Linked DNA regions of Homo sapiens. The protein of the gene in region 2 interacts with the protein of the main gene of each other region in a biochemical or structural test. Each region holds a gene or a part of one and is shown on either strand. Other genes may lie near its edges.

Region 1 (7,172 bases), on a different chromosome or scaffold from region 2:
GGTCACAGCTTCTTCTTGGGGCAGTGCTGCAGGGCCGCCCTCAGGGCCTCCGTCACGCGGTCCACATTCTCGCGGGTGGCATTGCAGCCCAGCAGGCCGATCCGCAGCACCTGGGGGGCACAGGGCGGGCTGACGTCAGCCTCCCGCCTGGGACCTGCCTGACCCTGACCGACAGCTGGCCAGAGCCAGGATGGGCTCACCTGAGTGAGGACCACCCACCCAGCGTCCATGAGGGGAGTTGACAGCCCTGTGCAGGTCACAGAGGGGGCCCTTGAGCACCCAGGCCAGGGCAGGCTCTCCTCCCTCTGCACCCGCAGCCACACGGGAGGACAGGGTGGTGCAGTGAAGGTCCCTCCCCACTGCCACTCAGAGACACAGCCAGGCCCAGGCGTGGGGCTTCCGGCCTGGTTCCAGGGTCTGGTCAGAGGGAAGGAAGGATGTTCCGAGTGGAATCATAAAGGCTGCACCTGGTGACCTCAGTGGGCTGGGGTGGGAGCAGGGGCGACAGGATACGCTTTACTGGATACCCCTTGGAGAGTGGGCCCTTCTGGACGCTCCTGCAATCTGGGCTTTCGGATGACCCCGGCCTCCCCTGCACCTGGTGCACAGTCCTGCTCAAGGAGGGGTGGCGGGTTTGGTTTCTGCAAAAGGCCCTCGAGGCGCTCCCTCTCACCTTCCCCGTGGAGGGCCCAAGGCCACCCATGATCTCAATGTCGAAGTGGTCTATGACGTAGCTGACGATGTCTCTCCAGTCATAGCCAGCGGGTACAGCCACAGTGGTGACTGTGGGAAGCCGGAGCGCCTGCAGGAGGGGCCTGGCTCAGTGCGTGGGTGAGAGGCCCTGTACGGGCCTTTGTGACAGCTCTTGGCCTGCACCATCTGCCCCAGCTTCAGGTTCCAGAGGAGCCGGGGGAGAAAGGGCCGGGAGAGAGCAGGGACCCCACCCCTTAGGAGGCGGTGGATGGGCACCTTCCCACTGGGAGATCACAGGCCGTCCTGAGATCCCGCATCAGAGGCCGGGAGCTGTGACTTCGTGGCTCCTGCCGAGACTAATCCCTGGCACCGAGGCCACACCACCGGGCAGCCGCCCCCTCCTTCTCAGGAGCCAGTGTCCCTCTTGAGGGGGCTGGGCAAGAGCCCCTCATCCTTCCCCATGGGTGCAGGGCTGCCCAATGCCAGGGGCCTCCTTACCGGGTCCTTCACGAAGAGCTGCAGCCCCAGTGCCTGCAGGCGCCCATGCAGATACGCCGCGGCCTCGCGGTGCTGGCGCCAGCTGTTCTCCAGGCCCTGTGTGGGAGATGGCGCTGGTGGGCAGTGACATGGGTGGGGTGGGCAGGAAGCCCCGCCCTCTGTGGTGCGGGAGGAAGAACCTGACTCTGCAGGCCTTGGTGCAGGGGAGCCCCTGGAGCCCCCAGTTTGACTTTGCCTGGGGCAGGGCCTGGGACTACCCCAGGGCAGAAGGAAACATCTGGGTCTGGGAGAGACAGAGGAGGGTTCAGAGAGACAGAGGGGAGGTCTGCCTGTGGCCCCTGGGGGAGAAGAGTGGAGAGTGCCTTGCAGGGGGAGGGGACTGGGCAAGGAGGGGAAGGGCTGTTGGGCTACACAGGGCTGGAGTGGATCAGGGCCAGGGCTCAGGGTGCTGGCTCCCAGGCCCCCTCTCCTCTCAGGGCCAGCTCCCCCGACCTGGCATCCTCCGCAGCACTGCTCCTGCCTCAGCTCTGGACAGGTGAGGGGTGGTCTCTCCAGCCCTGGGCCCCTCAGTGCCATTACCTCTGGTCACGGGTCCTCCCGGCCTCCAGCCACCAGCTCTCATGGCCACCCCAGGTGGGTCCCCGGAGCAGCAGCTGCTCTCTACTCTGGCCCTGGCCCGTCTTCTCTGCGCATGTGCCCCTGCAATCTGCACTCTGCCAGGTCCCTGTGCCTCTGCCCTTGACTGTGCCCTGCTGTCTGGTCCTGTTCTCTTCCTTCTCTGCCCAGCTCACACCCCCCACCCACCTTTACGACCCTAGAGCCTTTCCCTGTGTGAGCGCCTGACCCCTCGCCTTCCCCCGCGGGTGCGGGTGGCATTTAGCTTACAGGGGCACCCTGGCACTAACCCAGCCCTAGGCAGTGGCTTTATGAGTGGACCCAGGAGGACAAACGTGGCAGGCACGGCCTTGCAACCTCATGGGAAGCTGGCTGCAGCCCGGGGATCCTTCCTGGACTCTGGACTGGTGGCTGGCAATGGGCCCTGTGGGACACAGGACCCAGATGAAAGTAGGTGGGACTTCCTGTCTCGTGGCCTGCAGAGCTGCTGGGCCTGAGGCCACTCTCAGCCGCCTGTGTCCTGAGAGTGTGGATGTTGCAGTGTCCTGAGAGTGTGGATGTTGCAGTGGCCAAATCAACCCCTGGTCACACCCAAGTGCTCATGCTCAGCTCTTGCCCTGCCATAGGAGCTGGACAAGCCTGCAGGAACTGCCAACCCTCACTTTACATCCACGCCCACCTATCTGTGGGCACATCTCTGGCCCCTTCGGCCTCCCCTTCTCCCAGCCCACCCACTCACTGGGCCTCACTTACTGCTTCACACAGCAATGGAAGGGTTGGGAGCATCCACACCTGCCCCATTGCTGCATCTGTCCCTGGGGCTGTATCCCCCTGGCCCTGCCCGCAGCCAGTGTACCCGGGGCCCTGTCCTCTCTCCCCCACCCCCACTGAGGGCCTCTCTCTGGCAGGCTCCCTTTTCTCTGTGCACCAGGGATGGTTCCTTCTCTGCAGGCCGCGCCCTCGACAATCCAGCCAGTGGCCCTGTCTCCTCCTGTGGAGTGCAGCCCATGCACCTGTTCCGCAATGAGGGCCAGGCTCTCTCTCAGGCTGTACAGGCTGATGACGGGGATTGTGTGATGGTACCTGGAAGACACGAGGGGGCTTGGTCCAGCACCATGGGCAGGGTTGGGGGCAGATGGGGCATTAGCTCTGTCTGCCCCAGCCCCAACAGCACAGGCTCTCTGACCACAGGCCGGTATCCTCCGCAGAGGAGTCCTGTCCGGGTTCAGAACTTTGGACCGGGAAGGCAGCTTCGTCTGCCAGGGAGAGCATGGCTTGTGTAGGGCCCAGCCAGGAGGCAGTGGGTGGCTGCAGGAGCAGAGACACGTGCCACCACCTCCCTGCGGAGCCCCTCAGTCCCAGCGTGCCTGCGAAGCCGGCACTGGCCCTCTGTGCCCACTGGGCTAGGGCACCATTCCTGGCGCCTTGTTCCTGTGTGTAACATAAGGGGCCTTGGGTTTATGGCCAAGGTCGTCTTTTCAGAAGGGGTAAGCTGAGGCCCAGGAGTGGGGAGATGTGGCAGGGCCAGGTCCAAAGTGCCCGAGGGTGTGCTGGGACCTCTGGGGGGACAGTGTTTGTGGAAGCGGCAGTGGGGGCCATGACCCTGCCCAGAGCCTCGGGCCAGTCGAGGAATGGGGGAACCCAGGGTGGGGCATTTGACTGCCTGATGCAGGCGGATTCTGGGGCTCTAGTTGGGGTTCTTGAGGCATGAAGGTGGGGGGCTTGGAGAATCCCTGAGTGCAGTGAGAGGCCAGCGCCCCACCTCTCAGCCATGCCCAGCGCCCTCCACCTTCCCATCCCTGCCAGGCCTCACATCCTGGGCTGGTCGTCACAGCCCCAGAAGTTGGCCAGCCACTTGATGTCCAGGTAGAAGGAGAAGGGCTTCGTCTTGCGGGAGTACATCTTCTTTCTGGGGAGAAAGAAGCAGGCTGAGCACCAGCCTCTCAGTTTGGGCTGAAGGCCAGGGCAGTCTCGCTGGCTGTCCTGTTTCACGGGAGTGAGACGGGGTGGGGCCCCCAGGAGGGCCCGCCCCAGCTGCATTTGTGCTCAGGGGCCAGAGTGGGACCGGGTGGGTCGTGGGTCCCTCAGCTGTCCAGTCCCGCTGGCCCTTGGGCCCAGCTGTGTGACCCTGCCATGGGGGCACCAAGGCCAGCTCCCTCCACTCTGTGTGCCCCTTTCTCTCCCCCAGCCCCTCCTACAGGGTCAGCCTTCATTTCTCACATCACCCAAAGGTGACTGCTTTCGGGCCCCAGGGGACACTGGCCAGGCTTGAAACTTTAAATGTGTCCGTCTCTACAACTCCAGATGGAGGGGCCAGCCCCGGCCTCTCCCCAGGCTCCTGACTCACACCCAGCCGCTTCCTTCACCCTCCCGTGTGGTCCAGCTGGCATCTCAGACCTCCCACGTCCAACACCGAATTCCTGACTTCTCCCCGAAGTCCTCTCTGTTCTGGGGAACGGCACCTCCAGTTGCCAGGCTGCAGCTGGATGGGAACCGCCTGTGAGGTCTGGCCCCCTTCCCCTACCCCCTGCCCGGCCTGGCTCAGAATCTGGACACCAGGAGCGGGAGGTGAGATTGGGACTGCAGGGGGCACTGTGTGTGGCCCACGTTGTCCCTTGGGGCAGCCCCTGGAAGCTGAGCCAGGGCAGAGGCCGGTCAGGGCACTGGGCCTCAGGCCCTCAGTCCTTTCCTGGTCACTCCTTGCTGTGAAGCTGGGAACTTCCAGAGCAGTGGACTCTGCACCCTGCACACGCCTGCAGCCCTCCCCTCGCCCGGCCTCCCCACTCCCTGTGAACGCAGTGCCTTTGGCCTCCCAGAGGGTGGGCGGGAGAGCGCCAGGTGCTGGAGGAGCATGGGGAGCCCTTCCTGCCTGGCTCCCGCCCCTCCCGCCTCGGGCCACCTGAGCTCCCTGCAAGCCCAGCCCTGCACAGAGGTGAGGGTCTGTGGGTCACTCACTTGGCCTTGTCACTGAAGGAGATGAGCGAGGTCCCTGGAGGGGCGTTCAGGGCCTTCTGGGAGCCCGAGTACAGGATGTCGATGCCTGTAGATGGGTGGTTTGCTCGGGACGGGTGAGTCCCACCTCAGGGCAGGCCAGTCCAGCGGGATGCCTGCCTAGCTAATGGGCTGGTAGGCTACGACCCTACCACGAATCCGTACACGATAGCAGGGGAGATGTGGAAGGGAGTCCTGGGTTCAAATCTGGGCACTGCTGCGTGGCAGCCATGACCTCAGGCCTGAGCGTTTTAGCGCAGCTTCTCCCTCTGCTGTGCTGGTCCCCAGGGACAGCCCTGCCACCCCAGGCACCGTGTCCCTGGGGCCCTCCCCAGGTCCCTGCTTTCAGTAGTAGTTTGAGGATCAGCCCAGAAATCCCTCCCTTCCTGCCTGAGAACTCCCAAATCAGGAGGGGCTCTGCAGAAACAGACAGGCTCCCATGGAGTGGGTGGGCAGGCACCGCAGTGGATGCAATGTGCAGGCTCTCTCCCGTAAGCGGATGGGCACAGGAGGCTCCTTGGCCCCTCGGCCGGCCTGGTTGAGGTTCCCTGCGAGGTGACCCTGACAGTGGTGCTCACTGCTATGGGCAGCCTGGCAGGGCGCAGGGCAGATGTGAAACTGAGCCTCTGGGGGGTTGGGCAGAGGGGTGCCCAACGCCTGATTGACTGGAGCCCTGGCCCTTCCTCTTCCCACTGCTTCTGCTACAGCTCTGGGGCATCTCAAATGTCCCCCACCAGAAGCTGTCCCTCCTGCCAGTCCCCACGCCTGGATCTGAAAGCTCAGTGGAAACACTGGGGTGCTGGGTAGTTCATGGAGCCGCTCTTGCCGCAGTAAGGAGTGAGTGTTTCCCTGGGCCTGGTGGAGATGGGGCCGAATCCGCAGCATCGGCTGCTGGACGCACGCTTCCAGCAGGGCTTCCTGCACGCGGAGCCCCAAGGCTGCTTGGGCTGGGTAGGGCTCTCAGAGCCCACCCTTACCTTGCCGGTCCATGTAAAGGGGGGTCCCGCCCAGGGATGCCACCGAATCCACCAGGAGCAGGCACTTGTACCTGGAGAGGTGGGGGACAGAATGGAGGGCAGCAGGTGAGGCAGGGGGCCACTGGAGGGCCTGGCCCCAGGCTGGATGGGGTTTCTGAGCCTCAGGCTGGCAAGGAAGGCAGGGCACCTCCCACCTCCACCCCAGGAGTTGGCCAGTTGCCTTCTCCTGCCTGTCAGGATCCATCAGGACCTGTGGCTCTTCCTTTCTCAGCCCTGAACATTGGAGCAGAGGGAGCTGGGGGAGTGAGGGAGCATCACGGCCCTGGTGAGACCCAGCTGCAGGGCCCGGCAGTGGTGCTGAAGAGGGTCAGCCGGGCAGTCTGTGGTTCCCAGGGACAGCGGGTGCCTGAGGGCCTGTGTGGACCCCAGGGACCAGGGTGGCACCAGGCTGGGCCTACCTCTGCCAACAGCTGCTCGGCCCAGCCACTGGCCAGAATCTAGGCCAGAGGGGACAGAGTCCCAGAACAGCCCAAGCAGCAGCGCCACAAACTCTCACCCTCCTCCGCCTCCATGTTCACGAACTCTCGCCCTCCTCCTCCTGCATGTTCACGAACTCTCACCCTCCTCCTGCATGTTCACGAACTCTCACCCTCCTCCACCTGCATGTTCACGAACTCTCACCCTCCTCCGCCTGCATGTTCACGAACTCTCACCCTCCTCCTCCTCCATGTTCACGAACTCTCACCCTCCTCCTCCTGCATGTTCACGAACTCTCACCCTCCTCCTGCATGTTCACGAACTCTTATCCTCCTCCACCTACATGTTCACGAACTCTCACCCTCCTCCGCCTGCATGTTCACGAACTCTCACCCTCCTCCGCCTCCATGTTCACAAACTCTCACCCTCCTCCACCTCCAGGTTTTCTTATAAAGAAAAAAGAGACACAGAAAGTATCTCGTGCTGGCCGCAGGTGGGGATGGCCTGGGTGTTGCTGAAGCTGGCCAGGTTATGTTTGTGAGCTTTATTCATGGCCACGGTCCATGCAGCAAGCTGTCTGGGCTGGGGGCCCTGTCAGAAGGACCCTCCCTGGCCGTGGAGTTTCTCTCCTCTGTCCTGTGCTCAGACCTGCAGACGGGACTGCTGGGTCCCAAGGGGCTCTGTCCGCATTTCTCAGGAATCCCATCTGACTCCATTCAAGGCCTTGCCCTGTGCACCCCCATGCGGGGATGAGGGAGGCTGGAGGAGGGAAGTGGAGGGCATCAGGCAGCTTTAGTGTCCTGGCAATCTCGGGGTGAGGTGGGGACAGGCCCTGGCAAGATATGGAAGTCTGCACCAAGCCCTCTTCAGCCCTGGGGACAGAGGTCAGTGGGCACTATGGGGGCGCTCGGCCAGGGAGCA
Region 2 (6,410 bases):
TAAGTCATTTACACAGCCAGACTTTGTCATGTCCTGCACCTATGTAGTGTGGAAACTGCTCCTCCACCTGCCCAGCCCACTTCCCGCCTGGGTCTTTGCACCACCAACCTGCAGAGCCCAAGACACCAGCTGCCTCGTGATCCCCCAGGTGGTGACAGGTGCCACAACAGCTTCCTGTTTTCCTCCCCCAGGTGTTTAATTTTCTCCTCTAGAAAAGTATCAAACATGCACCAAGAAAATTTGAGAATTACAGAGAAGTATGATCTCCCCACTTTTAGCACATTGGGATAGTTCCCTATTGTCTTTTCAATGCATTTTTTTCTTAAGACAATCTGTAAATAATTGACCAACCATTTTTCTCACTATATTGTTAGCATCTATTGTCACTGGAAATTATTCCATAAATGATTAAATAGCAATAGCTATATTTCACTGTCTGGACAATTTACTTACCCAGTTGTCTTTTAGACCTGTTTTTTTTGTTTTTTGGGTTTTTTTTTTTTTTTTTTTTTTTTCTGGCAGCTTTTGAGCTCACCGGAAAAAAAAAATTAGACTTTGGCCAGGTATGGTGCTCCTCCCTGTGATCCCAGAACTTTGGGAGGCTGAGGCAGGATTCCTTGAGGCCAGGAGTTCAAGACCAGCCTGGTCAACATAGTGAGATCTAGTCTCTATTTGAAAAACTTTTTAAATAAATTTAAAAGTTAGACTTTTTTTTGGCTGGGCACGGTGGCTCACGTCTGTAATCCCAGCACTTTGGGAGGCCGAGGTGGGTGGATTGCCTGAGGTCGGGCGTTCGAGACCAGCCTGACCAACATGATGAAACCCTGTCTCTAATAAAAATACAAAATTAGCTGGGCGTGGTGGCACATGCCTGTAATCCCATCTACTTAGGAAGCTGAGGCAGGAGAATCGCTTGAACCCAGGAGGCGGAGGCTGCAGTGAGCTGAGATCACGCCATTGCACTCCAGCCTGGGCAAAAAGAGTGAAACACTGCCTTAAAAAAAAAAAAACAAAAAAAAAAAAATTTTTTTTCCAAGTCTAATGTGCCCACAAACATCTATCTCCAAGTATAAATATTTGTGTATATTTTTAAATTTTTCCTCAGGATAAATACCCATCTTGATATGGCACTTGATACAGTTCCCGATAAAGGCAGGCAGAGCCAGATGAAAAGCTTTAGAAACCCTAAGCACTGAAAAACTATCAAAATCCTTCCATGTAATTCATAATACAAAACAACCTAACAATTATATGGCACTGCACACTTTCCTTTGTAGTAGTAACAGGAGTAAAAATTCATGATTATCGACATCTCTTTCTCCTGCTAGCCCAGAGGCCCAGAGAACAGGGACCCTGTCTCCTGTGCTCTATCATTTTTAGAGGGATGAGCAGGTAACCAATATACCAGTGAGAATTTGAAAGGCAGAAACTGTTGAATCCCAGTCCTCCAAACGCCAACTCACCTTCTGCCATCCCAGCTTCATGACCAGCAGAACTCATACCCACATCAGTTCCATTTATTCTTCGTACAAATATTTTACAGTTTTATTTTTAAATCATTTACACATATTCATACAAAGAAAAATAAATTTCAGGATGGAATCCTGGGACCATGGTAGTTTAAAAAAAAAATCTCTCTGATCATTAGCTACTAAAGACAAGGCAAGAGGCTTAGCAGTCATTTCTGGGGGTTAGTGTATCTCCCCATGCAGGGGACAACTGAGAAGAATCCAAGCTGCTCCCTCATCTTCCTTCGATCTAGATGGGGGAAGGGGATTTTCCAATGCTCTCCCCTAGAAACATTTCAAGAAGTACAGCAAAGGCTTATGGTAACACTGAACCTATTTGCTAGAAATCTGGCAAGATTGCACTTTCTGAACCAATTTTCTATAACAGTTGGCTCAATTCCCATTCACAGGTGCTTCTAAGAGGATGAGGGATTGCCGCACTCACCATACCCCCTTCCCACTTGCTCTGTCCTCCCACCAACGTTCCTGAATAGAGCCCTTGATCTCTTCTGATCTAGTCCCTCCCCGCTCCCACCCAGCCTCATTTCACAAGCAAACCTTCCTCCTATGCCACACACCCAGACACTCTGTAGCAATTGGCCCTGGCAGCTCCTGAGGACCGCTGCAGTGATGACACAGGACTATTGCATCAGCATCGTGCTCACAGGGAATCAGAGCTCAGCCAGGAGAGGTCCAAGAATGACAGAACCATGAGCACTCCTACCAAAACTCAGCTCTGCTCAGCCAAATCAACAATTCAACCCAACAGGCCAACTCCTAACACATCCCATCCAGACAGACATTAGAGGCGCACAGCAGATGAACCTCCTACTTACACTGCCCAAGGAAGCTGGACTATCAATTCCCAGTAAAAGTGGGGGAAAGGACAGACATTACAGATGTGGTAGACCCTATCAGAAATGGCAGCTGATGATAACAGTTACCCTAAATCGTGGGGTCCTACCCAAAAAGCAGCACCAAGAAAGGGCATGATGAGCAGAGAGATCTGTAGCTGGATGTACAGCCCTTGAATTACCAAGGGACTCAGAGATGACACAGCTCATTTTCCTACAATTATGTAGGAACTAGAACACAGACTACCCACCCCTACGTTGAGGCAGCTCCTGAAAGGCCGTACCGCTTATGGTCATCAGCCCGCCCCCTTGGTAGGCCCATTTGGGGAGAGGGAATCACATCCAAAGCGGGGATCCCTCCAGGTGGACACTCACAGGGCAGCCCGTCCCACTGTCACTGGGGCAGGCCAAACATAGTTAGGAGGGTGGACAGATCCCGCGCGTCGGCTGCCCCATAGGCATCGCTCTGGCCTAACATAGACAATGCCAAACGCAGGGTGCTCCAGATGTTCTCCGACATGGCACCTCCTTCACCCCGGGGGCCCCGGCTTTTCCTCTGCATGTTCAGGGCCTCCAGAAAGTGCTCCACAGCCTCCCTGTAAGGAAGAAGAGGAATGAGAGCTGTTAAGCTGAACAACAATGGAAGGAAGCAGGTCAGCTAGCAGTGGGAGGGAGAAAGCTAGGGCTGGTTAGTCAAACAGGATCTAAGAATAAGGAGCTAGGGCCAAAGGCAGGGAGAAAAAGCTCATTCATTCATTTCTCAATAGATACTCTCACCGGTGAGCCCCGAGGTTGATGCAGCTGATGCCCAGGTTATAGCGGGACCGGATATAGCCAGGCTGGAGCTCGAGGGCCCGGCGGTACGCAGCTACTGCTTCTTCACTCTGGTTTCCATTGGCCAGGGTGGCGCCTAGCTTATTCCACAGCAAATAGTCCTGGGATAGGGATGCAGAACGGATGGGAACAGCTTGACTCAGCTCAAACTCTGCACATTACTCCACCGACTCAGCTCAAACTCTGCACATTACTCCAGCTGTTTCACTACTCTGTTAGCTAACATGTTTCGTCCCATTCCATTCTCAACAGTTCGGTGTGTGGCTACAATGTAGCCCCTCTCACCCTATGCAGACTCTCTTATGTCCAGATGACCCTACACTCCCAGCCTTCTTTTCCCAGTCCTCCCAAGGCAGTCAGTACATGGAACACTGGAATGAAATACCCCAAGACTCCAAAAGTCTGAACAAATTATTCTTTTTTGTGGGGGTGGGCAGGGTCTTGCTATGTTGCCCAGGCTGGATTTGAACTCCCAGGCTCAAGTGATCCTCCCACTTCAGCCTCCCAAGTAGCTGGGACTACAGGCATGCACCATCAAACCCAGCTTCCCAACAAATGGCTCTTCAATAAGGTACACAGTCATGTCCCATTTCCATTCCTCCCCTGGGCTCACATTGGGACGAACGCTGAGGGCAGCTGTGAAGCAGTCCACGGCCTTGTCATACTCCCCACTCAGGTTGAAAAGGACTCCCAAGCCACACTGCACATCAGGGTCAATGGAGGTAGGGTCCAGCCGCACAGCTGCCAGGAAGAGCTCTTTCACTTCAAGAAACAGGGAGCTGGATGAAAAGGAAAAAAACACAAAGTAGGTAGATGAATGTCTCTATTCCCATCCCCCCAAATTAATTTCTTCATTGATCAACCATATCCCCAACATTCATCAATCTATCAGTCATCTCTTCTACTCTCAAAGTCCAATATAGAAGCCTGTTTTTCTATTTCATCCTAGCACTGAACTGTAGAATGCAGACCTCCTTCAACTTGATCCTAGGTTTCCCATCCCATTCTCAGGACCCTTCAGTCTCAATCCATCCAAACTTCCAAAACCAAGGTCACCCTCCTACTGGGACTTAGGTTACTGTAATTCCTCATCCTAGGAACCCCTCATACTCACTCAGACAAGAGAGATCCCAGGATACGCTTGCTGGGGCCCAGTCCTGCCCCACCAGCCCCTTCTTCAGCAGGTGTCACCAGATGGGCATAGGCTGGTGTGTACCGCAGCCAGTCTCGTAGGGTTTCACAGGCCTGTCGCTGCAGGGACTCGTTGGTGAAGCTCACAGCCAGCGCCATCAGTGCTGTCTGGTTATCTGGCTTTAGCTCCAGACACCTGTTTGATCAGGGATGGGCAGACTTGATATCTGCAATGACTGACACTGGCACATGTGAGCACCCTGGGATCCAAGCCAAGCTTTGAAATGCAGAGTCACAATGGCCTCACCTGTGACTCCTCTGACATGAGTTAATAATAAAGTTACAGATCTAAGGGGAAGGTTTTAGCAGGCAAGGAGCCAACCAAAGCCGCAAATAAAATCAAAAGCCGATGAAGGAATGGAATTCACTCCAACCCTCAGAGTTTCAGCATGAGAAAACACTCTTGATAGCACTCAGAAAGAAGACAAGGATCCAGGTCTGGGCTTCTGTCATTCAAAAGGTTATATGCAGAGCCTTGGAAGCACCTCACCCACACCTTTCAGTGTACTCACCTCCGCAATGCACTGATGGCTAATAGTTCTTGTTCATTCTCTGCCTGGGTGGTACCCAGATACTGCCAAGCCTAGAGGGAAGTTGACAGATTCCATCACCCCATATTCACCTCTCCATTCGCCCTTCCCCCTGGCTTCTCCCACTCACCATCTCGCTCTCAAGCCCCTATCCTAGGCCATCACCCAGGCCCTAACCCATCTGCACTACTCTCCTTGGGGCCTTTCTCAAGATGGAGGAAGCAGTCTCTAGCCAGAAATGAGACTATGGAGTCACTCACTTCCATGTGCTTAGGATCCTGCTGCACAGCTGCCTCAAAAAGCAGCACAGCATTTGGCAGGTCCCCCTCCTGAAGGCGCCGCAGCCCTTCTTCAAAAGGCTGAGGGTGATCACGCAAGGGGTTCTCCTCCTCAAACTGGTACCCCTACAAGAAAAGCACGTGAGAGATGGACTGAGAGGTGGCACCGTCAGAACAGCAGGGATGTGAGGATGACAACCAGCAGGCAGAGAAGCTGAGGGCCTCCAAACAGGTTCCGGAATTAATTGCTGGCAAATTCTCCATATTATAAAGATCATGTATGACACAAGTAAAATCATTTGGTATCAGGTTTGTGCTCCCATCTCCTGTTCATGATACCTGGGAAGCTAGGAAAGTCTACAAATTCATCTGCGCTGGAAATAAGCTTATTTTAGGAAGTCATCACAGGCTTGTATTCCCACACCTTGACTTCTCACCACGGGGCAGAATGTCTCAACAGGATCTGCTTATAGTAATGAGACAAAGTGTCCCTAGCTATGCAAAGTGCATTTCTTGTTATCCTTCAATAATGTGATGATGTATAAAGGAAATGTTGTTTGGAGTCCTGCTATTCAAATATAACTCTTACTTAGCTCAGAGTCATTCCACATGTCAACTAGATAAAACATTTTCAAGCATTTTGAAAATGTTAATTTATTCCCCGATTTCATTCTTAATAATCATGAATATTAATCTGTATCTGACAGTAAGCAAAAGCTGGATCCCAAAATCCAGATGGCAGAGAATACTTCAGAAAGACACCATTCTCTTCCAGCTGAGGATTTCTCACTTTAGAGAAGAGTTACGATACTATCTGCAAAGCTTTGTCAACTGGCATTTTACACTAGGCAGAGAAGAAATGAGGTAAAGGGGAAGTCACTAGTAAGCTGCAAAATCTGGGACATGCAAATAAAAAGTCCGTTTTTGGAGAGTAGTTACCATCATAAAATAATACACCAGAACGAAAACAAGATGCAAAACAACAGGTGGAGGTCTTTCTAAATGCAGTTAAGAATAAATTCAGATAAAACTGTACAAAATAAAGACATGAGGCCCTTTTTCATTATTATTGTGAAAATGATAAAGAATCAAAAACACTTAAATCTTACCAGCAAAATTCTAAGTCATGATCAGATGCAAATTATTTGTCACAAATGAAAATTAAATAATTACAATGGGGGGTTTAAGAAGAAAGACATATTATAGTAGATTTGA

Evidence for each region. Proteins that work in one complex are often made in the same cells at the same time.
Region 1: the proteins of PEX5 (region 2) and AGXT are reported together in a solved structure, tested with the Homo sapiens proteins (2 studies listed by BioGRID and IntAct, with this or other methods).

Annotation. Positions count from the first base shown.
Region 1 is NC_000002.12:240,871,652-240,878,823, reverse strand, and holds part of AGXT (alanine--glyoxylate aminotransferase), read right to left. Parts: intron 5,846-7,172; coding exon 5,775-5,845; intron 4,847-5,774; coding exon 4,762-4,846; intron 3,716-4,761; coding exon 3,620-3,715; intron 2,890-3,619; coding exon 2,820-2,889; intron 1,288-2,819; coding exon 1,192-1,287; intron 803-1,191; coding exon 674-802; intron 111-673; coding exon 3-110; 3' UTR 1-2. UniProt on the Homo sapiens protein: Peroxisomal aminotransferase that catalyzes the transamination of glyoxylate to glycine and contributes to the glyoxylate detoxification.
Region 2 is NC_000012.12:7,206,570-7,212,979, reverse strand, and holds the end of PEX5 (peroxisomal biogenesis factor 5), read right to left. Parts: intron 5,322-6,410; coding exon 5,178-5,321; intron 4,971-5,177; coding exon 4,900-4,970; intron 4,524-4,899; coding exon 4,311-4,523; intron 3,976-4,310; coding exon 3,810-3,975; intron 3,298-3,809; coding exon 3,140-3,297; intron 2,959-3,139; coding exon 2,757-2,958; 3' UTR 1,521-2,756; downstream 1-1,520.